3 separate regions of the Homo sapiens genome follow, and regions 2 and 3 are each linked to region 1. The links come from fine-mapping of genetic effects on gene expression. A gene starts in region 1. Each other region holds a variant in brackets. All regions are shown on one strand. Distances are from middle to middle.

What was found. PIP is the estimated chance that this variant, and not a neighbour inherited with it, causes the effect.
Region 2: its variant is fine-mapped to the expression of ITGA1 in visceral fat (GTEx, PIP 0.95). The same link has a PIP of 0.9 or more in breast.
Region 3: its variant is fine-mapped to the expression of ITGA1 in tibial nerve (GTEx, PIP 0.98).

The regions. Positions count from the first base shown.
Region 1 is chr5:52,782,330-52,792,705 of GRCh38, forward strand. It overlaps ITGA1 (integrin subunit alpha 1), which reads left to right and starts at 5,587. Exons shown (of 29, transcript NM_181501.2): 1 at 5,587-6,085. The coding sequence starts at 6,025. PELO (pelota mRNA surveillance and ribosome rescue factor) reads left to right here and starts at 5,587. Exons shown (of 3, transcript NM_015946.5): 1 at 5,587-6,085. PELO-AS1 (PELO antisense RNA 1) reads right to left here. Exons shown (of 5, transcript NR_186455.1): 2 at 3,206-3,263. RefSeq lists an enhancer at 5,275-5,554.
Region 2 is chr5:52,759,175-52,769,550 of GRCh38, forward strand. The region is part of intron 2 of PELO-AS1 (PELO antisense RNA 1); the gene reads right to left. Among named protein-coding and RNA genes, the nearest start is that of ITGA1, 24 kb to the right of the region's middle. The variant T/C (reference allele first, on the strand shown) is at 4,731.
Region 3 is chr5:52,892,117-52,902,492 of GRCh38, forward strand. ITGA1 (integrin subunit alpha 1) reads left to right here. Exons shown (of 29, transcript NM_181501.2): 9 at 1,559-1,724; 10 at 5,339-5,412; 11 at 6,123-6,267. Among named protein-coding and RNA genes, the nearest start is that of ITGA2, 92 kb to the right of the region's middle. The variant A/G (reference allele first, on the strand shown) is at 5,290.

The DNA of each region.
Region 1 (10,376 bases):
TTCTCACCAGAGACAAATGTCCACTTTTACAGCTTTATTCTGGTAATGCAAATAATTTTATTTATAATAAATAATAATACATTTATTTACAGAAGGCATTACATTAAATTTCATTGTATAAAAGTTTCACAGTATACTTCTTGCATATGATATATTTCATCCCCTCTACTACAAAACTAAGATAAAAATCAAGCCACCTCAGAAAACAAATAAGAGAGAAAAACAAAAACAGAATAAAAAACTTGTTTGTATATGTCAATAAGAACTGTGAAAATATTCTGTGCTTATAAGAAGCCCAAATTCCCTGGTATCTTTCTAAGATCCTTTCCAATCTGGTCTCAGCTTCACTCACTTTTCTTAACTTCTATTCCAGTCTCTTCATCTATTTTCATGTTACCTCTGCATAGAATGCCCATTACCTTTTTCTCTACCTATAAAATCCCCTGCCCACTCCCTGCAAGGTTAAATTTCAGTGCCATCATCTATTTGAAAGCCTTGACTTTATTTATTCTCTATTATAGGGATCAGATGCAATTAGATCATTCTATGTATGTTGTCTCTACGTAGCCTGTGAATATTCCTGAGGTTAGGGCCTAGCACTTCAACATCTCTGATTCCCCAGGATCTAAGAGACTTCCTCCTGCAGAGAAGTAACTTTGTAAGTGTTTCAGTGCATTACATGAGCACAGATGCTGCAGAGAACAAACATTAGTAATTACTATCATTGTATAGATTATGATCTAGGAGAGAAGATAAAAAATGGTCACATTATTGTAAAATAAGCTATGTAAGTGTTATTATCTCAGAGCCAAATAATAGACTCCCTTCCCTTGATGCATTTATTTTGTATTAAAGACAAATGGTATTTCCCCACACATGTGTTTAGTGACCCAGTCCTACCACAAGAAATGCCAGTCTCCTTGGTTTGAAATACTAATTAATCATTTTTTGTTGTAATTCTGGGATTTTAGAGCCCACTTACTTTATTTAACTTTTTACAAATTGGTTAAAAGAAAATAATTAAATCAACCTGTTCAAATGATCCTAGAATTGCATAACAGCTTAAATATAATTAAGTCATATTTCAAATTAAGGGACCCAGCAATGCAGCTAAAATGTTACTGCTCATCAGTGGTTGTTATTCTGAGTCATAGAATGCCACGAATTGAACATTCCTGCCAGGGCACCACCCTGGTCCACCCTCCCCTGCTGCAGCCCTGGTGTGTCACTCATGTTGAAGTCTGCCAGTAAGTCCAAGGAAGTTTCCTATAGTGTTGAGAACTGTTCCTCACCAGGATTCTGAAGTCAAGTATTTTGTTTTTTTGTTTTTTCTTAAGTACCAGTTGCCCAAATGTCTTTGGACAAGGTTTCTGGCACAGGCTTGTTCAGGAAATAGGGAGGGAGAAACACCTATTTTATATTTTAAGTGAAAAAACACACAGGAATATTACGTAATAACAAAAAACAAATGGTTGGCTCATGGTGAAGTTTAAGTTCCATATCACTGTGACTTTATTTTGGTCAGAGAGGAAGCAATCATAGGTTCTCAAGGTATATCAACAACAACTATTAGGATAATTTCACTAGACTGTTTAATTTAATAGGCTTAAAATGAAATATGCCAATGTTACAATTGAGCACAAAACTACTTATTTTCTCTTCCTAGTTACAAGTGAAAGAAATTAATGAACAGCAGGTTTGCAGTGGAATAACAACTGTTGTATCCATTTTTGCCTCTGCAGAACATAGCCCTGGAGCCCAATATATGCCAGAAAATTAAAAATTATTGAACTAGACTAAGTTTTCCATATGAGTTAGCTTTGTGAGTTAGCCCCACTGTTTTGGGGTATATTCCCCTAAGTGCTTACATACTAAAACTTAAAAATCCAAATCTTCATAAAATCTTTGTAAAAACGGAAGCAGTTCTGTACACTTCCACCTACCCCTAACACCTGAGAGTGGAGGGGATGGGGTTGGGGTAAAACCACACTTTGATGCTACCTTAAAATGTATTTAAAATCTCATATTTGACTTTTAAAAAGAAAACATGATTTAAAAATATTTCTTATAAAAATCTGTTATTTTAGCAAACAACAATTTTTAAATTATTTATTTTTGAGTAAAATCAGCACCACCCCCACTACCCAGGTGGGAGTACCTTATTTATCCTGTAGCTTTGAGAACCTATAATCTTACTGCTAAAGAACCCTGGCATACATTAGACACGGAGTTCTAGAACCTCTTCTATTCCCCCAACCTCTTAGCGGAATGTTCTTCTCTTGTAAAAAAATTAAAAAAAAAAAAAAAAAAAAAAAACCTCTGACGGCCAGCCAATTTGAAAAGCAAATTCATGTGAACGTTATAATGGGTTCTGATGTCTTCATGCATACCCATTTTATAGAACTATCTTCAAGATAATTCCCTAATCCAAGGTAAATATTTTTAAAGCGAGGATTCCAGAAATAATAATAGGAGTTGATGGAGATATTTTTAGGCGGACATTAAAGTTCCTCTTCTGATGGCCATCAAATTTCACCACTTCCTACAGGGTCTACCACACGCAGAGCCTGCCCTGTTTACATGGTCTGTTTAATACCAATTCTTCTATTTACAGAGAAGAATGATTCATACTAACCGAGCACTTACTTTAATCCAGGCATTGTGCTAAATGCTCAGAGGCTCGGTTCATTTAATCCCCACAGCAATTCTCAGACCAGAAGTAGTACAGTATTTTCATTCCCACTTTACATTTGAGAAAACTGAGGCTTAGATAAACTTGATGACGTTTCCCAAATCACACAGCTACTATATTGTGGTTCCAGGACTTGAGTCCAAGCAGCGTAACTCCAGAACCTTACTTACTCTAGTTACTTTACTCAGTATATTAGATTAACTCCAAGAAGAATACTTTGGTTTTAAGTATATGTTTTTCTTTTTGAGATTATTGGTTAATAATCTCAATTACTCTTGCCTCATTTCATAGACATCCACTTTCCAAATTCTTAATCAGTTCAGTCTCTAATCTTTCAGTGCAGCCATCCCCAACCGTTTTGGCAGAGAGACCGGTTTCATAGAAGGCATTTTTTCCACAGACCAGGGGTAGGGGAAACGGTTTCAAGATGATTCAAACACATTACATTCATTGTGCACTTTATTCCCATTATAATTATGTTATAATATATAATGAAGTAATTATAAAACTCACCATAATGTAGAATCAGTGGGAGCCCTCAGCCTGTTTTCCTGCAACTAGACGTTTTCATCTGGGGATGATGGGAGACAGTGACAGATCATCAGGCATTAGATTCTCATAAGAAGCGTGTGCAGTTCACAATAAGGTTCATGCTCCTACTCATGCTTCCAAACCCTTAAAGAGATCTGATCAAATCAAGTCTCATTTAAAATAGAAAAGTATGTAGTATAAAGTCTAGAGCTGAAACATTTGTCATCAAGTGTCTCATATCAATAACTAGTTTGTGACTCTGGGCAAGTTTCTGTCTTCTCTAAATCTTTACTCAATGACATGTCTTTCTGTCAGTCAGAATAAAATTGGTTAAGAAAATAACCGGCTTGACATTTATTTGTATTTGGGTTTATTGAAGTTCAGAAAATAAGCACTGATTCTAAAATTAATTCTCTAACCATAGTTATCTCTCAGTCTCTACATTTGTATTGACTAGACATATAAAAGATTCATAAATATGTAAACATGTAAACATAAAATTTGTAACTTGTGAAAATTAATTGTAACAATATCACTGTTAGTGATGGTTATCACCAATAATTTGTAAGTCCTAGAGGAAATAAAAATATTAAAATTGAAATTATATATTAGCCCCCAGAAGAAAGGTAAATTTCCCAGTAATTGTAAACTTGAACATATTATATGTTAACCCTACTTTATTTCAATATTTTACAATTTCTTTTTGTTTTTTCTAATGAAATATATTGCAATTTGCTAAAATGCCATATATGTATTTGCATATGTATGTATATGCTGTACATATATATGTACACATACATACATACACATGATTGTGTATATATAGACACACTATTATATGTTTTTGAAAACTAAGCAATTTGGAGAAATATCATTGGGAAAGTACTTACTATGATTTTTAAATGTCTACGAATTAATCAATATCTATTGGTTACTGTTCAAAGCACAGAGAGTCATACTGAGAGGCATAAGACATAACTGATACTACCAACAGGGAAACGAGATATACACAGGAAATGAATTCCTTGGCAGGGTATGAGAGCATTGAACACAAACAAAGGAACTTAAGTAAAGTCCAATGGGATTGAACTGTGACCCAACATAATACAATTTTTCTAGAGACTCATTTGTGTAAATTTGAAGACAGAACTGAGAAATGACATTATAAAAACTAAAAACGGGAGAACGAGATTTTTAATGTATTTACTAAATAGTGAATCAGTTCAGATACATAATAGAAAAGGAATTTCTTGATTAATGGGTCAACATACTGAGATCTGATGGCCTTCAACCTCCTTGGGTCTGCCCACCCCATTTTTGACGCTCCTTAAACTTCTTCAACTTTTGTCTTCTCCAGCTTTTAGTTGCTGTGATCCTCTATCTGGCAATGTATCCAGTGAACCCTGTGGGCTTCTTCCTTCCTGTCCCTCGTGTTACCTGTTCTGTGCTACCTGTGTTGCGTTCTGCTCAACGAACCCTCCTTTGGGTGGCACTCTTGTCCTGCCTAGCCCTAGTTCTGCTAGAGATGCTCAATTAGTTGTTGAGTTGAAGAATTGAATTGAACTGTTTCCCTCAGATTCCTCTAAACACAAATCCACTTATTCTTTCTGTCTTTGAAATTCTCAAAACCGCTAAGACACAGCTATTTTGAAAATAGCCAGCATTGGTTGAAGCTAGGGTGAATATGGCTTTTGACTCAGAGAGGTTGTTCAACTCACCAGGAAAGGGAAGCATTGCAAGTTCCTAAGCACTTCTGGACTCTTAATGCATTTTCACTCGTGAAAGTTTCAAGCAAGAAAAAAATAAAGTAGTGCCCCGAGTTCTTTATTAGATTCAATTACCAGCGTACAAACATCCTAATTCACTTAAACAAAATAGCCCACACACATTCCATTTCCAAGGAGGCTGCTTTTCTTCCTCTCTTCCCTTCTCGCTCTCCCTCTTACTGTTTTTCCTCCGTCTTGCTTCTCCTTTTCTCCCCTTATCCTAGTTATCTCAAAGAAAAGCTTATCTGCAACCACCCTTTAACCACGAATTACCATAAACGAAGCAACCCCCCCACCCCCCCATAAGCGAAAGCAAAGCCCTCAGTGGAGCCTGTCGGGGTGGTGGGGACGCCCCCTTTCGTGCAAAACGACTTCACGGTGAATTTCAAGTGTCCGCAGGGGATGGAAGGGGGGATTCCAGATCCTCGCATTTTCACAGACGGCCTAATCCCTCTGCGCAATGGACCCGGGAAAGCTGCCTCCCGTTAAGGGCGCCCAGGCACTGTCAAAGCGCCCTCCCTGCCCGGGCCGGGAGAAGTAAGGGGTGTGAAGGCGGAGCCACTGGGCTGGCAACACCCTCCCGAAGGTCCAGCCCTTACCCGCCTTCCTACCACCTTAGGGGATTTGGCCCGGAGAACGAGATCACCCTCTCAATGAAAGGCAGATGTCCCTTTAAGGTTTGCTTCTACAGCCCGTGGACTTTAGCCTAAACACGGACCCGCGAAGCTGGCTTTATTTGTCCATGTCTCGGACAGAGCCTGGGAAGCTGCCAGTGAGATTTCAGAGACCAAGAGCGCGAAGGGGCGGGCGATGTGGCAATCCGTCTGGGATGTGAAAAGCGTGGAGCGCATTTAGAGGAATTCGACGAAAACACAGGAAATCACTCCTCTCCCGCTCCTGGGCGCCGCTGCCACTGGGGCAGAGGACTGGGAACCGCGGCAGCGGGATAAGTGGCCCAGCCAGAGAGCGCAGCTCCCGCGCCCGGTCCTGCCCTGCGAACCAGCGCGGCCCCCTGGCGCTGAGGCTGCTCCGGCCATGGCCCCTCGGCCCCGCGCCCGCCCAGGGGTCGCTGTCGCCTGCTGCTGGCTCCTCACTGGTGAGCGACTCGCTTTTCTCTGAGCATCTCCTGCTCGCGGGCTTGGGGCTTGGAGCGGGGAGGGAGGTCCTCAGAGCCATGGGCCAGATAGGAAGAGAGAGCGCCCATCCACTTTCGGGCATTCCAGGTACTCAGGCCAGGCTACGGGGCAGGCAGGAGTTTCGCGTTCTGGTTTTGATATGAATTAGTTTTCGTGTCTCTCCAAAGTCCTTCACCCTAGGAGTAGGAGTGAGGCAGCACTGAAAACCTTAGAAGGTAGAATTCACTTTTAAAATTAAAGTTGTTTTTACAATACACATTGTATATTAGGACTTTGCTGAATATTTCCTCCCCTCCACCCTTTTTTATGGCATGGGATGGGAGGGTGATGCTTATAGGGCGCCTGATACATATGCAAAATTCCTACCCTCGGGTTGTTCCAGAGTGGACATTATTGAATTTTCTTGCTGTCTACTATTTAGGCTTTTTTCCCATGCAGAACAAGAAAAGGCAGGGATGCAAGACGAAACTGCCACTTGTTCCAAAATGATGTTTCTATGTCAGCACCCAAGAGGAGGGATATTTTGAAACGTAGAAAGGAATGGTGAACATTTTCTCTGTAAATATCACAGGGCAGTCTACTTTTAAGATGCAAAATATAGTATTGTTATTTGTACATAAATGTGTATTTTTAAGGAGGGGACTTAAAAACATAGTGGAAATGCAAAGTTGTATCCAATTTAGAAAAAGCTTGAAATATAGCATTTTGTAAGATTTTCCCAATAATGAACTCATGGTCAGATCTTTTTTACCAGTTACTGATTGGGGTGGGGGAAAGTTGAAATGGTGAAAAATGGAAGAAGGTGGGGGGAAAGTGTATCGATAGAATCTCTGTGTGAAAGAAAATCACCTTATTAATGGGTTAATTAACAGCTGGCTTTAACATATCATTGATATTCAATTGTTCAGTGTTTTTACTGCTGGCATGGTTATTAGTACTAGTTAATTTAGCATTTTTACCACTAAAAACAGGGTAGAGCCAGCTAGTTTAGACCTGCCTTAGATGGCCAAGCATTGTTAAGTTTTATGAAGATGATTTAGAAGTTGATTATCAGCAAGCAGAGCTTTTTTCAGAAGGGAGGTAATGTAAAGAGAGTTAATAATTAGCTACTGGCTTTTCATCCAAACATTTCCCACTACTCAGGAAATGTCCAATAATCCAAACAGTGGTAACTGCTGAACAGCATTATAGCCGGTGAGTGGTTTAACTTACCAGCTACTGCCACTACTTTTTACACATATTTGACCTATGATTCTTCTCCAACTCAAATTTTTTTAGATTGTATTTTGTTGTTTTTGTGCAAAATCTGAATACAGTAGTTTACTATCCAAGTTGTACTTTTTCATTCTACCAAATAAGCAGTCTCTAGAGTAGAAATGATGAAATGAGGTTTGCGTATCCTCTAAAAAGACAAGAGTGAAACTTGAAGTAACAGAGAAGTTTAACAAGTTACAATTTCATATATATGTTGGTGAAATATACATTGGTGAATCCAGGAAGAGACTTAAAATATTTAGAAACCTTGTGTGCACTATATTTATGCCCATTTCGCAACACATGAGGGATCTGAAATTGGACTGCTTTCCCATCAGTCATTATATTCTGTAGGCTCTTCTTTAGCAATCTCTTTCAGATTTGGAAACTTCTCATCAATTCAGAGTCCGTTTGTAACCTGGGGACTCATCACCATACTTATCCATGCACACTACTGTAGAGCTTATCTTTCTGTCTTCAATTTGAACCCAACTTCCAGTCTACCCTCCTAATACATCATTTTTACTATATCTGTTTTTAGTCAAAAATCTTTGGTGGTTCTTTGTTGCCTTTAAGATAAAATCCAAAATTCTCAACTGACTGCCCTAATCCAACACCCTCTCTCTATCTCCTACTACTCCTATGTCAGTTTCTTATTGCTGTTGTAACAACTTGCCATAGATCACCAGCTTAAAACAACATAAATTTACTATTGTACAGTTCTGTAGGTCAGAAGTATCACTGGGCTAGAATCAAGATGTCACCAGGGCTGCATTTCTTCTGGAGGTTCTAGGGGAAAATCAGTTTCCCTGTTTTCACCAGCCTCTGGCCACCACCTGCATTCTTGGCCTGTGGCCCCTTTCTCCATCTTCAACCGAGCAGGGTAGAATCTTCAGATCTTCCCCCATGACTCTGCTTTATCATCACATCTCCTTCTCAGACTCTGACCCTACTACCTTCCTAAGGATCCTTGTAATTACAATGTGCCTACCAGAATAATCTCCTCATCTCAAGATCTTTAATTTAATTACATCTTCCAAGTCCCTTTTACCATCTAAGATAACATATTCACAGGTTCCAGGCATTAGGTCATGGATATCTTTGGGAGACCATTATTCTGCCTACCACAACCCATAAGCATAAACTGTCCATTATAGCCAATCACTTTTCTTTACTTTCTCCATAATCCTCATGTTCATTTTGCCACTGAAGATATGACCTTGTTTTATACATCGAGAAAAGAATTCCACCTTTCCATCCTACCACCCTCTGACATCTAAATAAACTCTCTACAGCCTTCCAAACTGGGTTTACATCAGAACAACAAGCCACCAGCATCCCAATAAACTTCCTATTTGATTTAGACTGTCTTATATTAGCTCCTTACAACGTTTACTAAAATGATTCATCAAAAAGATGTCCTTATGTCCAAAGGATTGTTATTTTATGTATGTCAAAGTCTCAGCATAAACTGATGTCACATATAAAGGATTTAACTGAAGACAGTTTCATAAAGTGACAGTTTAGAGAGGCCTTAAAGGAACAAGAAAAGAGGGTGGAGCATCTAGCGCAAGCAACAGTAGGGAAAAAAGAACCTGAAGCAAGGTGAGAAGAAAAACCATGACCATTCCTAGGCCTGAGGAGGTGGCAGTGTTAGTTTGATTATGAACTCTAGTTATGGGAGGGTGGCCATTAGACTGGAGTTGTGGTCATAAAAAGGAATGCAGCTAGTGACAAAATTGAAGCCCAGCAGAGAAGGAGTAAGGAAAATAAATATACCTCCTTTCCTCCCACCCTCTGATGTCTTGCTCAGCCTTCCCATTGGCCATCCCCAAATGGCAAGATCCAACCTTCCAGAGAACAAAGGGCAAGACAATCAATAACAGAATAGCTAGCACAACTTAACCCCGAAATGTATTATGTGCAAGGCACTGTGCCAAGGGCTTTGCATGTATTATTTCATTTTAATCTAAAAAATTAAGTTTACTAATTGATCACAAGCAGTCACAGATTTCTTTGTTCTTTTTTCACTCCCTCAGCTTGTTGATTAGCCTTGAAAAAAAGAAAAGAAAAAATTAAAACTTTATAACTATTATCAATATTTTAGAGATGAGGAAATCAAAATATAGTATTAAGAAGTTAATTTCATTTGTCCAAAGTTGAAGAACTAATGACAAATCTACTCAATTCATATCTCTGACCTCAAATTAAATGCTCTAAAATAATATGCTATATTGGCTGCCTAAAGATAAGTTCATTCTCTCTTGCTCACTCCTCTAAATGTGAAATCCAAACATAGTTGTCTAAAATACTTGGATAAAGACCTAATTAATGATACAAGTCAATCTTTTATTTCCATGATTTTTAGGTGTACAGCATTAAGTGTAACTCAAGTAAGACTACTATTTCTCGTTATTAAGAATATAAATATAGAATTAGCCCTAATTAAACTATATGTCTCTCTTCCCTAGAAACATTTTGGTTGGCCTAGAAGCAAGGGTCTTCTTTTCACAGGCAAGATTTCCTATTCAAAATGAAATCCAGTGAGGAGATGGGAGATGGCTGAATATGGGGAGGAAGTCAGCCACTTATTCAAAACAAAGAATGACTCCCAATGGCAGACAATGTATTGTCAGGAATTGCTGAAGATGGTGAAAATTGTCTTACTCATTGTGATGTTTGTAAAGGCAGCAATGAATTCACGGGATTTTTGTTTGTTTAGTAAACAGGCAATGAGAGTAACCATGAGACACATATATATGCTATACTAGTTTAACTATTTCTCTTCCCTCCTGTCATAACACTTACCCAGCTATTTTGAAGCATGAGCTCTTGGGCCACAGCTTATCACTGATGTTCTGACTTCAGTAGATAGATGCTCCTCTAACATGTTCCTCCACTTCCAACCCAATAAACTTCCCACTAGATTTAGAACTTGCTGAATTTCCACATCTTAACATATTTTAGTAGAATAAAGTAGCTCATGTTTAAAATATA
Region 2 (10,376 bases), 23 kb before region 1:
TACATACAAATGATAATTAATAATTGAACATTTTTACTGTAAACTATTCAACACTATCCTTTCTCTTTTTAGAAGAATTTGTTAATGATCTAAGCTCCATGAATGAAAGAAGATTTCCTGCCAAGTTTGACACCCACTCTAAATGGACAAATCTGAGCTTTGAAGGCAAAACAAAACATTTGGGATTCTGTGATACTTTACCAATGACCAAACCTAACTTCCTCTTTTGGAGAAGAAATTTAATGTAAACCTTCATGTGAAAATTCCCAAAGATTTTTCAGATACCACAGTCCTCTTCAAACCAAAAGCTGGAAGAACAAGTATAAATACACTAAAACATGTGGGATTTGTTTTCTTTAAAATGTACATTAATTTTTTTAAGTTCAGGGAAGGGTCATTTGAATAATTCTATGAGCTGTACCAAGCCAAAGCCAAGAATACCTCATGGCAGTGTGGTGAGGCTCTTGATTTCCCACGCCCACATATGCACATAAGATTGCCTTTAACAGATATTTTAAGGAATAAAGGTAAAGGCCATGTTTGTACAAACATAATAGTAATAATGATAAAATAATAATAGTGATAAAGCCCTTGGAGATGTAGCTTATGGTCACTGGCATAAGAAATTCCCAAAGATTTCCACATAAATAAGGAAGGACAACTCACCTATGGTGAAAACTTGTTCATATGAATGGCATGGTGACCCCCCCAATTCTGACTTCCTCTCACACAGGTGAGCCGCACTCTCCAATAGAACTTTCTGCAATGATGTCAATGTTCCTCATTCTGCAGTGTCTAATACAGTAGCCACTAGCCATGTGTGGCTATTAAATAATGGAAATATGCCTGGGACTAAGGAGTTGAAATTTTTGATCTTATTTAGTTTTAATTATCTTTAAATTAAATAGCTTCATGTGGCTAATGGCTACTGTAATGGGCAGGATAGCTCTACAGAGCAGGAATAAACCCTTGATTAAATCATTGTTACTCCTTGAATACATCTCTATAATTACAACCATAATAATAAATAATTAACATTTGTTTAGCACTTGGGGCTTTACCTGCTTATTCCTCACAGAGCAAATTTCAACCATCATTCATGCCCCAGGTATTTGTAAACTTACTCTGGATAAAATCCTATTGTAACAACTAAAGTGAAGACTCGGGTGATAAGTGTGATGATGGCCCTGGATCCAGGGAGACAGAGCATATAAGTTGGTATAAGGACTGGTATGAATCAGCTCAGGGCACCAGATGGACAATCACATGCAAGGGTAGCAAAAATCAGAGAGAAATTTATGGACCATATAGGATAGGAGGATGGTGAACTCATAGGAGTAGATAGTCCCCTTGTAACCCAACAGGCTGTAGGTAATCTTGATGTGGGTCCCAGTCCTGGCTCTGATCTTATTATCCTCTGAAACGAAGAGGGAACAACGGGCTACTGACAGTGAACTCCAAGGAGTGTAATATAATCACATACTTTCACAAGATGTTGAGATTTACACAGAAATATTTGCAAATAAGAAAGTTTGCCTTTGGTGACTTTGGAGTCACACTCAACAACTCTCTTTCTCTCACACCCCACATCTGATCTCTTCAAGCAAATATTATTGACTTTATCTTTAAAATACATTCAGAACCTAGCAACTTCTCATCACATTCACCATGTTCTGACCACTATCATGCCATAACAGGATTATTGAAATTGTCTTTTCACTTCTCTTTTTGTGTCAGTCCTTGCCACAGCACAGTATTGGACATATAGTATATATTTCCACCAAGCAAGCAGATGGAAATAGAAAACCTCAGCAAAGTTTATTGCAACAGCTGGATTTATCATTGATATGATTTGGATGTGTCCTCACCCAAATCTCATCTTGAATTGTAGCTCCCACAATCCCCATGTATCAAGAGAGGGACCCAGTGGGAGGTAATTGAATCATGGGGGCGGGTTTTTCCCTTGCTGATCTAGTGATAGTGAATAAGTCTCACAAGATCTGATGGTTTTATAAAGGGGAGTTCCCCTGTACATGCTCTCTTGCATGCCATCATGTAAGATCTGACTTTGCTCCTTCTTTGCCTTCCACCATGATTGTGAGGCCTCCCAGCCATGTGGAACTGTGAGTTCATGAAACCTCTTTTTCTTTTTAAATTACCCAGTCTTGGGTATTTCTTCATAGCAGTATGAAAATGGACTAATACAATCACAGACATGATCAAATGGTTGTAATTATATTTTACCTATATCTAATTATATTTTCTACTTATGCAATTTTACCTACGCTGTCTGAAAAATCAAAAATAGTGATTACATAAAATTCCACTAAAACTGTACGATATCTGGAAAGAGCACAGAGTGATGCTTTAAAAAAATGTGTCTGGCAGAGCCTCGTGTCTCACACCTGTAATCCCAACATTTTGAGAGGCTGAAGCAGGAGGATCACTTGAGTGCAGGAGTTTGAGACCATCCTAGGCAACATAGCAAGGCCATGTCTGTACAAATATAATAATAATAATGATAAAATTTCTTTAAAAATGTATCATCTAATGCTACCCTTCTACCCCAAATCCTCTACTAGCTTCCATCTCTGAATAAAAGCCAAATCATCTAAATGGCCTTTAAGTCCCTATATAATCTGACCTCATGTTTCTACCACTGTCTGCCTAAATCACTCCATTCCAAACAGAGTGGTCTTCTGAACTTCCCAAGGATGCTCTTGCCTTAGGGACCTTCTGCTATAAGTTTCTTACCCTACATTCTAGCATAGACCTTCTTATAGACTGAATGTTTGTGTCTCCCTCAAATTCATATGTTGAAATCTTAATTTCCATTGTGATGGTATCTGGAGATTGGGCCTTTGGGAGGTAACAAGGTTAGATTAGGTCATGAGGGCAGGGTCTTCATAACACAATTAGTACCCTTATTTAAAAAAAAGAAAAGGCAGTAACACAGGATCTCTTTCTCTATGCTCTCCGTTATGTAAGGTTTCAACCAAAAGATGGTCATCTGCAAGCCAGAAAGAGGGCTCTCAGCAGAAATGAGATCTATTGGTACCTTGATGTTGAAATTTTCAGCCTCCAGAACTATAAGAAATAAATGTTTGTTGTAGAGTCACCCAGTCCATGGTAATTTGTTGTAACAGCTAGAACTAAGATAGACCTTCCTCCCACCTTTGCTCAAACATCATCTTTGCAATGAAACCTTTCCTGATTACCGTGTCTTAAATTTGCCACTCACACCCCTCACATACACCCTTTTCTCTAGTTCAGCTTCATTTTCCTCCATTAAACTATTAACTATCTAAAATACTATTTTTTATATTTTATTGATTGTCTATTTCTCTCCACCAAAATATAAGCTCCATTAAGATGGGATTTTGTTTTGTTTTGTTTGGTTCATTGCTTTATCCACAACATATAGAGAATTTCTTAATAGGTAGTAGACACTAAAACAAATAAATAAAATGAAGAATAAAGCTTTCTGAGTGGAAAGTTGATGAAAAAGAAGTTTTAAACCACTAAAGGTTTGTTGTTAGGACAAAGTTTGCATGCATTTCAACTATTGCACTTGTCCTCCAATGTTTTTTTCCTCAATTTCAACAACAGAAATTAGCCCACAGCTATATTTTGTTTGTAAGAGAATTTCTCTCCAACTAAGAGGTCATGAATCTTGCTTGGCCACAGTTAAAAAATGAGAACACTTGGACACAGGAAGGGGAACATCACACACTGGGGCCTGTTGTGGGGTGGGGAGAGGGGGGAGAGATAGCATTAGGAGATATGCCTAATGTAAATGACAAGTTAACGGATGCAGCACACCAACATGGCACATTTTTGCATATGTAACAAACCTGCACGTTGTGCACATGTACCCTAGAACTTAAAGTATAATAAAAAATATGTATATATATAAAAGAAAATAATACAAACATTATACATGGAAATTATGTCACTTAGTTAAAGTAAAACATACATTTATTCCAAGATGAAAAAAAAATTGTAGACACATCGAATGTTACAGCTGGGAGAGGCTATAAGAAACACTACTCCAGTGGGCCTCAAACTATGTTCCCACAATAGCTAGACCAAGTTTTCCCACCATAAAATAAAGTAACACAATATTTTATCCAATTTTCCGAAAACATAAAGCTAATAGAAAAAGTTTTCTCAATTTTTTTTCTCATAAATTTCTCTTACGGTATTGGCACTGCAATCACTTAACTAATGATATGGTTTGGCTGTGCCCCCACCCAAATCTCATCTTGAATTGTAGCTCCCATAATTCCCACTTGTTGTGAGAGGGGTGAGGTGGGAGATAATTGAATCATGAAGGCAGTTTCCCCCATACTGTTCTCATGGTAGTGAATAAGTCTCATAAGATCTGATGGTTTTATAAGGGGTTTCCCCTTTCACTTGGCTTTTCATTCTCTCATGCCTGCCACCATGTAAGACATACTTTTCACCTTCCTCCATGATTATGAGGCCTCCCCAGCCACATGGAACTGAGTCCATTAAACCTCTTTTTCTTTATAAATTACCCAGTCTCAAGTATGTCTTAATCAGCAGCATGAAAATGGACTAATACAACTAACAAGCATTTTAAGATGTCAAAAATTAATAAACAAGAAGCAAGCAGATAGAAATAGAAAATCCTAGAAATGTTTATTGCAATAGCTGGATTTATCATAGACATGATCAAATGGTTGTAATTCTATTTTTGCCTATAT[T/C]GAATTACATTTTCTACTAGGGCAATTTCCCCTACTTTGTCTAAAAAAAATTAAAAATAATGATTACATGGCATTCCACTAAAACTATAATATCTGGAAAACAGAATTCTAACTGTAGGTTCTCTAAGTTGAGACAAGTTTGAAAACATCTGATCTAGTCTAGGCCTTAATTTCACAGATGCTGCAACTTACACCGAAGGGAGGTGGCTGGCTCAAAGTCACATAGTGACAAAAATATATAACTTGACAAATCTTTTCTGCTTACCTCTTTCTTCCCGATTTCAAATCTCAAGGATTTGGTTTGTTTTTCTTTTTTTAAGATCTCACTATTTACTTTATTATAAGAGGAATATCTGCTCAAAAATCAGTCTATTAAATTGAGTTTCCCTGGAAGCCAACTCCTTTTCAATCTCCCAACAAGCCCACTTTTCTAATCACTATGTGTATTAGGATTGTCAGAGAAACAGAATGAGTAACTTTATATATATAGAGAGAGAGAACTTTATATATATATTTATATATATAATAACTCATATATACATATATAGAGATAGGTAGATATTATAAATATATGTGTGTGTGTGTGTGTATATATATATATATATATATATATGTGTGTGTGTGTGTATGGAGACAGAGAGATTATGAAAAATTGGCTCATGCAATTGCGAAGGATGAGAAGTTCCAAGATCTGCAGTTAACAAGCTGGAGATCTAGGAGAGTTGGTAATATAGCTCCAGTCTGAAAACCAGTGGTCTTGAAACCCAAGAAGAATTATTGTTTCTGTTCAAGTCCATAGGCAGGAAAAAAACTGATGTTCTAGCATGAAGGCAGTCAGGTAAGAGAAGTTCCCTCTTATTTAGGCTTTTCGTTATAATCAGGCCTTCAACTGATTGGATGGGACCCACCCACATTAGAGAGGGCAATCTGCTTTACTCAGTCTACCAACTTATGTTAATCTCATCCACAAGTACCTTAAAGACAAGGAATAATGTTTGATCAAATATCTGGGCACCCTGTGGCCCAGTTAAGTTGAAAGATAAAATGAACCATCACAATGTGTAGGTAATAAAGTCTTATTAAAAAAAAAAGAGATAGAGAGTTATAAATCTACGAAAAATATAAAAAGAAAGGGAGAACTTTAGCATATCTTCTCCAAGACATGGCTAAAAAGCTAGAAAACCATGGATAGTTTTCAACCCCCCAAATAGGTTTCCCTTGAAAAATTTTTCCTGGAGGATTTCAGGGGAAGAAAAAAAAGCACATAAAAGAAGACTTCTAATTTTAAAACATTTCAAATGTCTTTGTTTTTTAGAGCACTGGAAGATCTTGCAATACAAGCCCATTTCTTAAATGGCAGCAATCAATTGGATCAAGTAGCAACTACTCCCTTTATACAGGCCTAGAGTTTTCTGTTCACCCCAGTTCTCTCTGTCCTTTTCACCAGAAAATGTTAGTTTCCAATCAATACTAATTTGATCATCATTTTTATCTTACTAAAGTAGAATAGTTTTGTGTCTTCATGTCATCATCAAAATTGGGGAAAAAATAAACTAAGGTGATAATGAATTTAAAGAATACAGTGAGAAGAATCACATTTATTTTATAAATTAATTATATTGTATTAATTATATTATTATGTTTTAATATGCATACAATATGTTTCTGTGTAGAAACAACTAAAATTAGTTGTTTTTTTTCATATATTAGCCCATAGCCTTACTTGAGTTTGTGATTCCTATTTTATAGTCATGATTATTAACTCACTTCATATATAGTAATTGAAAGCTGTGGGCTTCCTGTTTGCTTTCTCCTCTAAAGACTATTACTAATACTCCTAACTCATAGTAGACACATCTCATGCCTAATGTCTCTGCAGCTTCCTTGCTCACCACCAACCCATCACACAACACACATTAACACCCACCAACTACACAATAAATGAAACAGTTGTAAGTTGTTCCTTGCAAAGAAGTAGCCATTCATGGTGACATTGCCAGGCGCTTGGCCTAAGGGCACTACAACTTGAACCCACTAAGCTAGGGAGTGACCTAGCTTTTTATTATGGCAACCAGACTTGCTCTGTTTTGAATTTTTGATGTTATAAGATTTTAATTTTTATATGTTTAAAATTTCAATTTTAATTTAATGAGATTGTCCAGATAATAATGAGAATAGAGGAGACAGCCAGACAGGACAAAAACAGAAAGTAAGATGAGACCACATGGTACATAAAAAAGCTGGCTGAGCATGGTGGCTCATGCCTGCAATTCCAGCACTTTGGGAGGCTGAGGCAGGAGGATCACTTGAGCCCAGGAGATCACGGATGCAGTGAGCTACGATTGTACCACTTACTCTAACCTGGGCAACAGAGTGAAACCTTGTCTCTGAAAACAAAACAAGAACTACTGAGAAATTCATGTTTTTTTAAAGCTTCCTCTGTGACCAAGAGATTATTCCCTTTCAGAATATAAATATTAGCCTAAATTAGATTATATAATTATATTTTTAAAAAGTTTACTTTTTTTTTTCCCACATCTCAAGGAACTGCCTATGCTAAGGGACTCCTAACCAAGTCGGCCTCTTGTTTCAGGTAATTTTCAACAATGACCATGTCTATTAGTCAGGGTTCTCTAGAGGGACAGAACAAACAGGATATATGTATATAGGAAAGGGAGTTTATTAAGGAGAATTGACTCACGATCAAGAGGTAAACTCCCACGATATGTCGTCTGCAAGTTGAGGAGCGAGGAAGCCAGTGGTGGATCAGTCCCAGTCTCAAAACCTCAAAAGTAAGGAAGCTGACAGTGCAGCCTTTAGTCTCTGGCCAAAGGCCTGAGAGCCCCTGGCAAACCGCTGGTGTAAGTCCAAGAGTCCAAAAGCTGAAGAACTTGGGGTCTGATGTTCTAGGGCAGGAAGCAACCAGCACAGGAGAAAAGATGAAGACCAGAACACTCAGCAAATCAGACCCTGTCATGTTCTTCTGTCTGCTTTTATTCTAGCCATGCTGGCAGCTGATTAGATGGTGTCCTCCCCGATTGAGGGTGGATCTGCCTCTCCCAGACCACTGACTCAAATGTTAATCTCCTTTGGCAAGACGCTCACAGACACACCTAGAAACAATACTTTTCATCCTTCAATCCAGTCAAGTTGACACTCAATATTAACTGTCACATCATGTAACCAGAAATCCACTAGTGTGGGTTGAATCTTTTATTCCTAAAATTGATAAAGAATATTTTTCAGGACTCACTCCAATTCTGAATCTAGGTTAACATCACCAAAGATGACTTTCTGATTTATGTTGGTAATTTCTAGGTGTTTGGCCATAAGCTGAGTATATCATTAGTTTCAAAACAGATATACTCATCTCCCAAATGGCATTAGTATGTCATCTTGTTAAGAAAAGTTCACTTACAGTTTGTCATAGTTCATTTTCTTTTGCTATAACTGAATACCACAAACTGGGCAATTTATAAAGAAAAGGAATGTATTCGTCACATTTCTGGCAGCTGAGAAGTCTAAGAGCATGGTACTGGCATCTTGTGAAGGCCTTCTTGCTGCCTCATATCATGGTGAAGGGCATCGCATGAGGAGAGGGCAACAGCATGCCAACTCAAGTCTTTCTTCCTCTTCTTACATAGTTACCAGTCTCATCAGAGGGCCCCACCCTATGACCTTATCTACTCCTAATTATCTCCTATCTCCCATCTCCAAATACCATCAACATAAGATTTGGGGAATTAAGTTACCAACACATGAAATTTGGGGAACACCTTCAAACCATAACACAGTTTCATCAGTTTCTTTGGATATTGTGGCTTATAGATATACCACATTTCTGTAATTATTAAAAAAAAAAAAAACTTGAGCTTTATTTTCCAAGAGCCTCTGCCAGAACTTAAAGTGTGTTTCAGATTTCTTGTAACTTGAGAACTTCCTCTATAACTGGGCCTTTGTTTACCCCAACATATCTGTATATCTAGGCAATCTATAACTCTACTGAATTCAGGGAATATCAGAAAAAGGAAATAAATGTGCATTGAGTCAATCCACAAGTTCAGTTTGAATGTGAATATTTCACTTCCTTAAAGAAAGCAGAGCTATTCTTGTCTAGCTTATTTGTCCCTTAACTTTAAGTTTAATCTGTGGCATTCTCTTCTTACATCAGTAAGAAACAAGAATCATACTATGAGTCCTGGGGGGTCCGACAAGTTGGTTCTTGCAGATTTTCTGAACTCCAAAAATTCCTTGGTATCAATTTGTAGTTTAAATTCTTTTCAACATGCTTTCACCTCCTATCTTCCTGATAGCACAAAAATTAGCAAATTTTTCATACTTTGCTTGAAATTCCTGCATAAACTGGTAAGATATGGTCACAGGCAGAAAAATTATTTACAATGGTGATCATTTCCTTTGTCATATAATGAAATGAACCTAGCTTGGAAAATCACAGCAAAACTTGTCTGGTGAATTTGGACACTAGGCACACCAACATTCTCTTGGAATCTGAATAAACTGTTGAAAGCTTCTTTCATCACAGTGCTCTATCTGAAAAAAGCAAAATTAATTTTTCAAAGTTTGAGCCAACTTCTCAGCTTTCTTTCTGGTAAACACTTACTTCATTATTTTGGTCTTTAAAATATTGCTAAAAATGTCAGACTGTCTGCACTGGAAGTCAGATGGACAGAGTTGACCTGCTGTAGAATATTTCTTTACAACCTCTAGCTCCTCTTATTTACCCTGAGCTTTTGTGCACCTGTATCCTGTATGCTGCAGTGTTTGTTTGCCACAATACAAATGTCACCCACCTACCCCACCCAAAATAGAGGCAACAGACAAAAGTATTGCCTCATATGCCAATAATTTCCTATGATCTAAACAAAACCCATTTATAAAATTCTAGACAACCTAAAATAAGCAAATATTAATACAATTTTGCCCACATTCCTATTTGATTTATGACTGAACTGTTGGCAGAAACATTATTTTATTTATTATTATTATTACTATTTTATTTATTTACTTATTTTTTGAGACAGAGTCTCACTCTGTCTCCCAGGCTGGAGTGCAATGGTATGACCTCGGCTCACTGCAACCTCCGCCTCCCAGTTTCAAGCAATTCTCCTGCCTCAGCCTCCCAAGCAGCTGGGATTACAGTCATGCACCACCACGCCCGGCTAATATTTCTAGAGGGGGGCTTCACCATGTTGGCCAGGCTGGTCTTGAACTCCTGACCTCAGGTGATCCGCCCACCTCGGCCTCTCAAAGTGCTGAAATTATAGGCATGAGCCACTGCGCCCTGCCAGAAATATTTTAAAGCCAGCACAGCACATCACTATTTGTGATCTAGGAATCCTAATCCCTGACTTTGAATTTTCTCTGGCTCATGTCATGATCCCTCCACAGCTGTGTTATAATGTGGAAATTTATCTTTCATGTGGGTCTGACTTAGCCTTTACTTTTTTTTTCTGTCTCTTACTTAAATCATGATGTTTGAGTCTCATCTTTCATGTTTCTTTACTATTTTCTCTACTGATCTTTGTAATTCCTGGGTTTTCCTAACTACTGGGCCAAACTGAAGGCACATTAATCCATGATTCATGATCAATCCATGATCACCTTTTGAGGTTCTATAGAGAAGAC
Region 3 (10,376 bases), 110 kb after region 1:
CTCTTACAACACATTTAAGGGAAAATAAACATCTCGTTTTCTTTTAATGGGAAAAAGATTTGAACAGACACTAACTACACCGAGGAAGAAATACTATAGCAAATAATTGTATGAAAGAGTCTCAACATCATTAGTCATTAGAGAAATGCAAATTAAATAAGACACCACTATACGCTAACACAATTGCTAAAACTAACAAGTGAACAAAAAAAACTGACAATAACAAGTATTGACACGCATGCAAAGCAGCTGGATCTCTTAGACATTTCTGATGGGAATAGTAAAATGGCAAAATGGGACGATTACTGTGGAAAGCAGTTTGGCAGTTTCTTAAAAAGTTAATCATTCACTTATTGTATGACCCAGCACTTTCATTTCTAGTTATTTACTCAAGAGAAAAGAAAATATATGTCTATTACAGAGACCTACATGTGAATATTTACAGCAGCATTATTCATAATATGTTGAAGCTGCAAACAACTCAAATGTTCTCATTAAGTAAATTGTGGTGCATCCATACAATGGAATGCTACTCTGCAATAGAAAGGACCCAACTACTGCTACATGCAGCAACACGGATGACTCTGAAAAGCATTGTACAAAGTCACAGAAGCCAGACACAAATGGCTACATACTATATGATTCCTTAAATCTGACATTCTGGAAAAATCAAAGCTATAAGGACAGATTATTTATCGGTGGTTGCCAGGGTTGAACGAGGGGAGGAAGGGATTGACTATAGGGGCAGGAGGGAACTTTTTGGGGTGATGTAAATATTCTACACCTTGATGTGGCAGTAACACAACTATATTGGTTTGTCACACTCATAGAATTGTACATCTAAACAGGGTGAATTTTACTGTATATAATTTATTGCAATAAACCTTACCTTAAAAAAAAACTAAATGTTTGAGAAAACCTGCTTGGACATCTAAATAATTATAGTTAACAATCATATATAACTCCTGCTTCTCTCTCCTCTTCATAAAAAAGAATGCCCCTGTCTCCAGCATTTGGTTTCAAACAAGAATATCTCAATTGTTTATTTTCCAGATTGCCAATTTAGATTACCACTTAGTCCAGTATGTGTTTAAAATATATATGTGCTGGACTGTGCCTTGGTAATAGTTTCAGGAAGAATTGCTCATTCAAAAGCAGGCAACTCACTTGCTGATTGCCTTTGCCAGCAGATAATGACATCACTAGCTGGAATAATATCAAAGACATTCAGAAACTATGAATATAACATTACTTTTGAACTGTCAGATTTTAAAAATACAGCTGTTAGTAACAGGGACACAGAGTACAAGAGGAGAAATTTTCACAGACATACAAAATTGCCCTTTATATTTTTCTACACCAATTGTGGTGTTTATATAACAGTTAATATTAGGGAGTCTACAAATTTTGAAAATCACTCTTCCATAAATATGAAAGTACATAAAAATTCCATTATGCTAAGGTACTCTACACTGTTGTTTACTGACAAAATGCTTGAGATCCTTTATTTAACACATAGAATTTAAAATATATTCTTGCTGTTTCTGTTGTGTCTTAGATTCTTGGCAGCTATAACCGAGGAAATTTAAGCACTGAAAAATTTGTGGAGGAAATAAAATCAATTGCAAGTGAACCCACTGAAAAGCATTTCTTCAATGTCTCTGATGAATTGGCTCTAGTCACCATTGTTAAAACTCTGGGAGAAAGAATATTTGCCCTGGAAGGTATGTCTATTTATCTTATTGCTGCATGTTCTCTCTGCAATTCAAAATCAGTATAATGGGATTTTTGTATTTATTCCTAATACATCAGTAATACTTTTTTTTTTTTTTTACTGTGTACAATATCTAGCATGGAACAATGCTCTTTTATATAAATCTGCCATTAAGATGGCTGTTTCTCACAACACTGTGTCTGCTAGAGACTCTCTTTGTAAGGGCATGGTAGGGCAGTGCTGATGGGACAGCCGATGAAGACAATGGTCAATGTAGATGTGCCAGGACAAAAATGTTTCCATGTGCTTTGTTCCTTTTCTGTTACATAGATTTGGAAAATGAGGGTACTACCTCTGGTTTGGGTTTTTTTTGTTTGTTTGTTTCTTCATTTCATATTGAGCTACTACAAGAGTGCTCTTATGCAATAACTTCTTTGTTCACTTATTTTCTCTGTATTTTGCTCCTTGCCCATTTTAAAGGTCTTCATGGAAATTTGCCTTAAAATCCATGGCAATGAAACATTGGTTCACTGTATTTGTCTAAATCATGTTACTTCTTTGCAGATTTTTCCTTGAGTTTTCAATGGTGACTGGCTGTTGAGGATAACGAGTTATGGCATTCCCTATTCTGCCTTAGGTAGAGGATGTCAAGTAGCTAATTACTTTGGAACTCGATCTTTCCTAAAAAACAAAAAAAAAAAGTCTTCAGAATTGTTATGCCAGGCAAACTGGCAAAGCTTCTTTCTTCACATTCTTTGATGATCTCTAGTCTCAGGGAACATGCGCCTTTTCTCCAACTAGGGAGAGAAACCACCAGAGAATTCTTTTCCCCTTAGGCTACATCCAAATCCAGTTGACCCTGTCCTTGTGAGGACACACTGAAAGACTGTTGTTTCTACATCTTAACAATAGAAATTTAAAAGCACTTTCTCAGTTTCCCTGATTTGATTGATAATAGGAAACAGAAAGACAAAATGGGAATGAGACACAACTGAAAAAAAGTAGACCATTTTGATTGAGCGTCAAGGGGCTGGGAAAATGCAGAAAAATTAGAATATGAAAATGTACAGAAAGGAAAGATAATTATTTAGAGTTATGGCTTTCAAACTTTTTTTGAGTGTGACTCACGATAATAACTACATTTTGCTTTTTGACCCAGTGCACATAAATATATACATATAAAAATAAGGCAAAGTTTCACAAGATAATTCTTATTACATGTGATGCACTGTGATGGTTTCTCATCAATTCCATTCTACCCTAATCTCTTTCAATGAAAAAAAAATGCTGGCTATACTCAGTCTGTTGATTTCATGACTGGGTCACAATCCGTACTTAGAACATTTGATTTAGAGGTGATAGGAATCTACAGGCCAGCCAGACTGAATTTCTGTGCCTCCCTTTTCCCCTGGCCTCTTTCCCCTGTGCCTTTAGAAACAGAACACTCTAATTGTTTATGAGTCTGGAGTCCCAGCTGCTTCTGAAGAACTCAGCTGTCTTGTGCTCTGTGTACAAGTCATTTTTAAGTGGCTTTGGTCTCTCAACAGCTCTCCCGGTGTCATTTACCAATAAACCAGATTATGAGCTTGGCTGGCCTTAAGGAAAATACATAAGGTCTTCCAACTAATTGTGTACTTTTAATTTTTAATAACATGGGCTAAGATATGATAGAAACAATCTGTAAAAATAATTTAAAAGAAAAGTTACATAGTTACATTTGATAGTTCAACAGAATACAGTGTCATTTCTAAATCTCCTTTTAAGTAAGCAAGTAACCTAAAACTGGCAAAAATGAAGCCCACTTCAGCTAGGGGAGGGGGAGATCAATTGCCTGAAATGACATTTCAGATTATTTCTAACCTAACTACACCATGGATTAAAGGTGACAGGTTGAAGAGCCCAAACACTCCAAGAAGTCTCTATATTTAAATATGACATCATTTTATAAGGAACTTTACAGATTACAAATGTCTTCTATATCATCTTTGTTGCTACACTACACCAAAAGCAGTGTTTTGACTAGACTATTTCTTATTTTTTTCATGAGATATTTAAAAAGGCTTTATTTCTTTGTTGCTCGGGAAATCTCCATTTCCTGTCAACATGTATCTTAAGATGACAAGTAGCTGTGATTATGAAATTTCTGTTTGCCAAGGACAGTGCCATCTATTGAGGCAAGTATGCCAAGGACTTGCTTAGTACATCAGAAAATAGTCTACTGTCTCCATTTCCCGTTGAGCACTGGGAGAAAATGCCAACATTTCTAACCAGAGGCTGCACAGTGGTTAGAGTGGCTGGCCCAAACACCCATGAACAGTCCAGGGAGAAGTTTGAAGCAAGAAGCCCAGGAGAATATAGTGGTCTATTACCATGATGCCACTGCAGCAGGAAGAACATCACATAGCGTCCTTCTGTCTGTTCTCAGCTGAAGGCAGAATAGCGGCAGGGCAGGTGCTGAAAATAATGCAGGTTTCCGTTGCTGCATTCTTATTGATCTTGCAGATAAGTGAGAAAACACCTGAAAGCATTGTGGACTGAAAATACATGTTTAAATTAAAGTTAAAATGCATCTCAGTCATTTAAATTACAGGGCAATTCACACAAGAGATTAAAATGATATATTTGAATTCTTCACTGCCGCGTCTAATCTAGTCCTACAAAGGTAATTACTGATGTATTTGTTCACAATTTTATCCATGTAAATAACTAACAAATAGTTACATTCACAAATTTGATTATTCTCTTGCCTCAACGAAAGGGCAGACTGACTTTCTTAAGTGCTATTTTTAACTTATCTGCAAGGCCAAATAAATCAGTAACCCCTAGTGCAAGCAAATAAATCAACATTCCATCAATTCCCTCAGGAAATTGTGGCTTTGGGTTTGTGAATATTTTGAGAATAATTTGAGAGTAGCAGACTGCCATGGAATGCTCTGAATTATCTCTGCATTTCAGTAAAGAGCTTCAAAATGGGTACAGGATCTTTTAAAAATGTATGATTGAATGGCATGTGGGCAGCCCTATCACAAAGACCCCTCTGGATCTGTGAGTGATACTTACCACCAGTAATTAGAGCAAATAAATGCATACTAAAATACCTAAACCCTTTATCACACAATGAAATTCTGACAGAATCTATGGCCTGAATATGGGTGGGACTGATGGAGTTGAGAAACCTCTTTAAATATGTGAATGAAATTTTTTTCAGTCCCATAACATATTAAGGGAGTTTAGCCTAAGGGCTCAGCAGGGTTCCCAAGGCATGAATTTGGACAGGAATTTCCTACTGTAGTACATCCAACTTGAGCCTTGTGGACCCAAAGCACCATAGGATCCACAACATGCTACAGTATAAGAATGGAGATTTCTCAACCCCTCTGGCGAGGACAGGGCTGCTAATGAACAAGAATTTGAGACATGAGCCCTTTGACTATTTTTCTCTGTCTTCTACCCAGGCCTACCTAGAAATTTTGGGTTGAGAAATGTATGGCTGAAAATGCCCTAAGATGTTTGAAGTTCTGGTTGGTAAGACCACAAGCTCTACCAGGTATCTGTATTCTGCAAGTCAGTAGTGC[A/G]TGAAAAGGCATTGTTACTTATTTACAGTGATATTTTCCTATGTTATAGCCACAGCTGACCAGTCAGCAGCTTCATTTGAAATGGAAATGTCTCAGACTGGCTTCAGTGCTCATTATTCACAGGTATGTTGACCAGTTGGTGAAAAATGAAATATATGTTTGCAAGACTTCCCTTCCCAAAACCAACATCTAGCCATCAGTATGTAAGTGCAACGTGCAGTTCATAGCTTGAACAATTATGCAGGCTATGATGATGTTTTCTAATTCAAATAGGAAAATATCATTTCACAAGCTTCTTATTAAGAAAATATGTTCTCTCACACAGTTCACTACATTGTACTAATAGTTGTGAATCAGACAGTGTGAGCTTTGCCTTGTAATTATGTATCTGTCTAAATGAAATAATTTAACATATTTGCTACAGATGTGGAATATTTTTCCACAGGTCAAGGAATTCAAGGGTCTTATTAGAATTCCATGTTCAAGACCTAGGATGCTGGGCACCCAGAATAAAGTAGAAAGACAAGATTAGAAAATATATCATTTGCAGTTAATGAAAGAAAAGGCATAATGGTCCTTGCAAAAGAATATTGACATTTCCATGTGCAATTTTACTGTATAACTTGGGTAAGTTATTTGTGCCTTGATTTCCTTTTCTGTAAAACAGGTATGGTAGCAATAGCATCTAACTCATAGAGTTATCATGAGGATTATATAAGCTAACAAATGTAAAGCACTTTGAACAGTATACCTATACACATTGTTAATGGTGTTTAAGTATTTCCCCTTATTATTTTTATTAAATATTATTATCTTATTTATTTGCATGTAAGGACTGGGTCATGCTTGGAGCAGTAGGAGCCTATGATTGGAATGGAACAGTTGTCATGCAGAAGGCTAGTCAAATCATAATCCCTCGAAACACAACCTTTAATGTTGAGTCTACCAAAAAGAATGAACCGCTTGCTTCTTATTTAGGTAAGGTTTGGATATAATTATAAAAGAGTTGTTTTACTTTTCCATTTTTTACCTTTAGCATTATTTGCTTATGTTTCTATAGGCTTGCAACCATATAGCAGGATTATTTCAACAAGTTGGGTATTTTCCAGAACCCATGCAAAGTTTTAGGCCTCTGAGCAGCTTTAGTTAGTCAAAATGACATACATGGGGGTCCTTTTTTGTTAGTAGGGCTGTCTAATGCAGGGAATGGTTTAGGTTGATATGTGCCCTTTCTGATATGTTCAGTTTCTCTGTGTCTGGTATCAACTTTAACTTCAAGGAGAACTTTGAACCTGGTGGACAAGAAATGAGAGTAGAAAAGGAAACCTCGACTTCTCCTATATCCTGAAAACCAAACTCATATTGTCTTAAATGTCTTCTATCATTAATTTCTCTCTATGGGTCCTAATTTGGGAAAAGAAAAATGTATTTTGTCATGTAACTTCTTCTTTAATAGCTCCATTCACAATCAGACAAATATTGAACTTAAACCCAGTGATATAACATGATCTTGTTTCCCAGTGTCTTGCCAGAAATGAGGAGTTGTATGTCTGGTACCACTTTATTTGGGATCTATACCAAGCTGAGCAACACCTGGGGGATGCCAGGGAACTCTCCCCTCACTGAAAAAAGATATTCACCAACAGTTGGGAGGACCTAAAATAAAAAGGACCATCAGGATATGGCTTCCCAGCTCTTACTCACTCAACAAATATTTGGGGGATCCTCTTTTGCCCCAGGCATTGATCTTAGTGCTGGGAATAAAGTGATAAAGAAAACACATACCTTGGCCTGGAAGCATTCACAGCTTCACGTGTTAGCCTTCCTCTCTGGGATCTTTCTGTCCCGGAGACAAGTCTTTTTCTCTCTGTCCCAGTTGCTTTCTATTTTATCAGGAAGGTGGCAGGTCTTTACTGCGGTGTTTATACATCTCCTTATTGAAGGACACCTATTAAAGCTGTAGGAGCAGCAGGACTTAAGAAGAATAAAAGGACTAGAGTTTTAGATGACTAAAAATGTAACAGTCAACAGCAGCTGCACTGTGACTGCTAAAATCTCTTAAGACATGTAGAACTGCATGAATGAAAGTCCAGTCTGTTTCTCATAGAAATCCTGTTACATTCCACTCTGGTCAGACAACAGCTAGAGTATCTGGTTGTTCTAAGTATCACATACTACAAGGAGAAAATGACAAACTAGGATGTGCCAGTAAAATATTACACAGAAAAGTCAGCTCCCGAAGCAATTCCCTGCTACAAGTCTCACTCTCTCGAAAACTTAAAGAAATTGAAGGTTAGAAAACAAAGTGTGCATTGCATGTATTTTAGGTATTTGGAGGATTGTGATATAAAATATAGGGGTTAGGCTTAAAATTCATTTCAAATTTTAGCATTAAAAGAGATCCTATGGAGCATGTAGTCTTAATTTCCAATCAAGAAACTGAGAGATAGAACAATTATGTCCCAGCTGCCTATGGCAGGTGTGAAACCACAATTGAGGCTTCTTGATTCTTATGTCAGTGTTTATATCACGATACCAAAATAACTGATTCTGGGTTGATTAAGAAAGCACTGCACAAATATTGAGTACCAGCAATGTGCCAAACACTGAGTTTATAGGGAATAAAAAGATAGATGGGGCAGGTCAGTTCCTACACTGATAAACCTTACTTTTTTGGGTGAGAGACAATAATGAAACAAGCAATCACTATCAGTATGATATGTGCTATGACACAGAATACCTAAAAAAGAGGGCTGGGGATTAGATTAGATATCTTCTAAAAGTTCATTACATCCTAAGGTTCTATGAGACTGTTTATGTGAAATACCTTGGAATCAAGAACCAGCTTAACCTGAGGCTTCTGTTATATGTAGAATAAATATAGAACATTTATCTTCCTATATAATGGATGACATATAAATTAGTAAAACTCCTTATGAAAGGCATTTGACAATGTGTTTACAGAGCTATAAAAAATGTTCGTACCACATTTATACAGAAATTTCACTTCTGTGGACCTAACCTAGGGAAAAAAATCCAATATTTAAGAATGCCAAGTGAACAATGATTTCCATTGTATTATTATTTATGTTATTGGGGGAAATGCCATTATCCTAAATGCCCGAAAATATGCAGGTAGTTAAGTAAATAGTAAATCCACTTAATGAATATTACACACCCATAAAAATAAAAATTATAAAGCTGCTGATTCTATGATACTAAAGACTTGAAGCAGTTATGGTACAAGGTGTACAATTAGCGATAGCGATGAGGTCATAGAGACTTGAGCTTGTTTTCTGATTCTGCCCCTGGCTATGGCTTTAGGCAAATTACTCTCCCCCTCAAAGCCTCAATTTTCCTATTTCTAAAATGGAAATAATTACACCATATATATCATTTGGGTTGTTAGATTAAGTAATGACTATATTTAGTACTGTGCCTGACACACAGTTAACACTCAATGGGTGTTGTCTATTATTTTATTATGTAAATGTTATTATGTATTTTTTTATTGTGTAATGTTATATAATAAACATTCCTCTTATTAGTATTGTGGTAGGCAGAATAATGATCCCCAAAGATGTCCATGTCCTAATCCCTGGACCCATACTTTGCATGGCAAAAGGGACTTTTCAGATATGATGAAATTAAGGATCCCGAGTTGGAAGATTATCCTCAGATATCTGGCTGGACCTGATACAATCAAGCATTCTAAAAATCAGAGAACCTCTCCTGGATGTGGCCAGAGGGAGACAGAACTATGGAAAAATGGTCAGAGAGATGCAGTGTTGTTGGCTTTAAAGATGGAGGGGGGCCACAAGCCAAAAACTGTAGATGGCTCTAGAGCTACAAAGGGCAAGAAAACCGATTCTCCTTGATAGGCTCCCGAAAGGAACACTGACCTGCCAATATCCTGATGTTTAGTCCAGGAAGCTCTATGCCAGACTTCTAATAAACAGAATGGTAAGATAAAAAGTTCATGATGCTTTAAGCCACCAACTTGTGGTAATTTGTTACAGCAGCAGTAGAAAACTCATACATAATACAAAATAATAATAGTAGCTGACATTAGTACTATTACTAATAAGTATTGAGTATTTACAAATTTAAAGACACTGTGTGAAGTCCACAAAGATGTGTATGATATTGTTGCCACTCTTAGGAAGCCCACACATTTTAATTGATAACACTGTAGTTTTTGGTATTCTTAATTATATGTGATTAAATTCCTTTAAAGTAAATAAACTCTTAAGAATCCTAAATTTGTCATTCCCAAAAACCTTTGGTTAAACGTTGCTTAAAGCAGATGTGGAGAATTCAACTTAAAGATGCCACTGCAAGTAAGAAAATATTAAGAATCTTATTTCTGAGCACAGTATTTATAATATATGACTTCTCTCTGTCCAAAAAGGAAATTTTTGGGTATGTTTTCTACAGTGTGCTGAGATTTTCTTTTCTGTTTCAGAAATTATTTCATTAGCTTACTCACAAGTGAGGGTATATGACATTTTGCCAACATAAAGTCTAATACATGTAAGATTTCTTTCAAAATAGAAAAGCATTCAGAAAAGGCAGGACAAATACCTTGTGTTTTTTTTCACCCAAAATAATATTCTAAATCTGAAATGAAGTTTTCAAAATGTTTCTTTGTGGGGGTCACAAATTGAGAAGAGACTGAGTGTATTTTTTCATAAACTGTGTGGATTGCAAGTTGTAAGGCTATGAAAAATCTTATGAAGGAAGCAGAGGCAGAGGCTCTGTTAGAAAAATCCCATGCTTATCAATAAGGATCAGGAAACTGTAAGAACTCAAGCTGTCAAACATCTGTCTCAGGACATAGTCCTACCCCATCTTTCTATTACCCAAACTGCCTTATGCCAATACAGGCATTGCAAGTGAATTTGGTGGTGAAAATACAGCTGGGATTATGTTCCCCTGCCTCCTCCACCCACAGTTTGCTGAATTCTATTCCTGCCATACAGCTTCCAAAGGAGAAGGAAAGATGTGAGGCAATGTCATGGCATCAAGACAGATCATACCTGTTTCCCATTACCTCACTAGATCCTGGCCCTTTTCCCAAGAAGTGA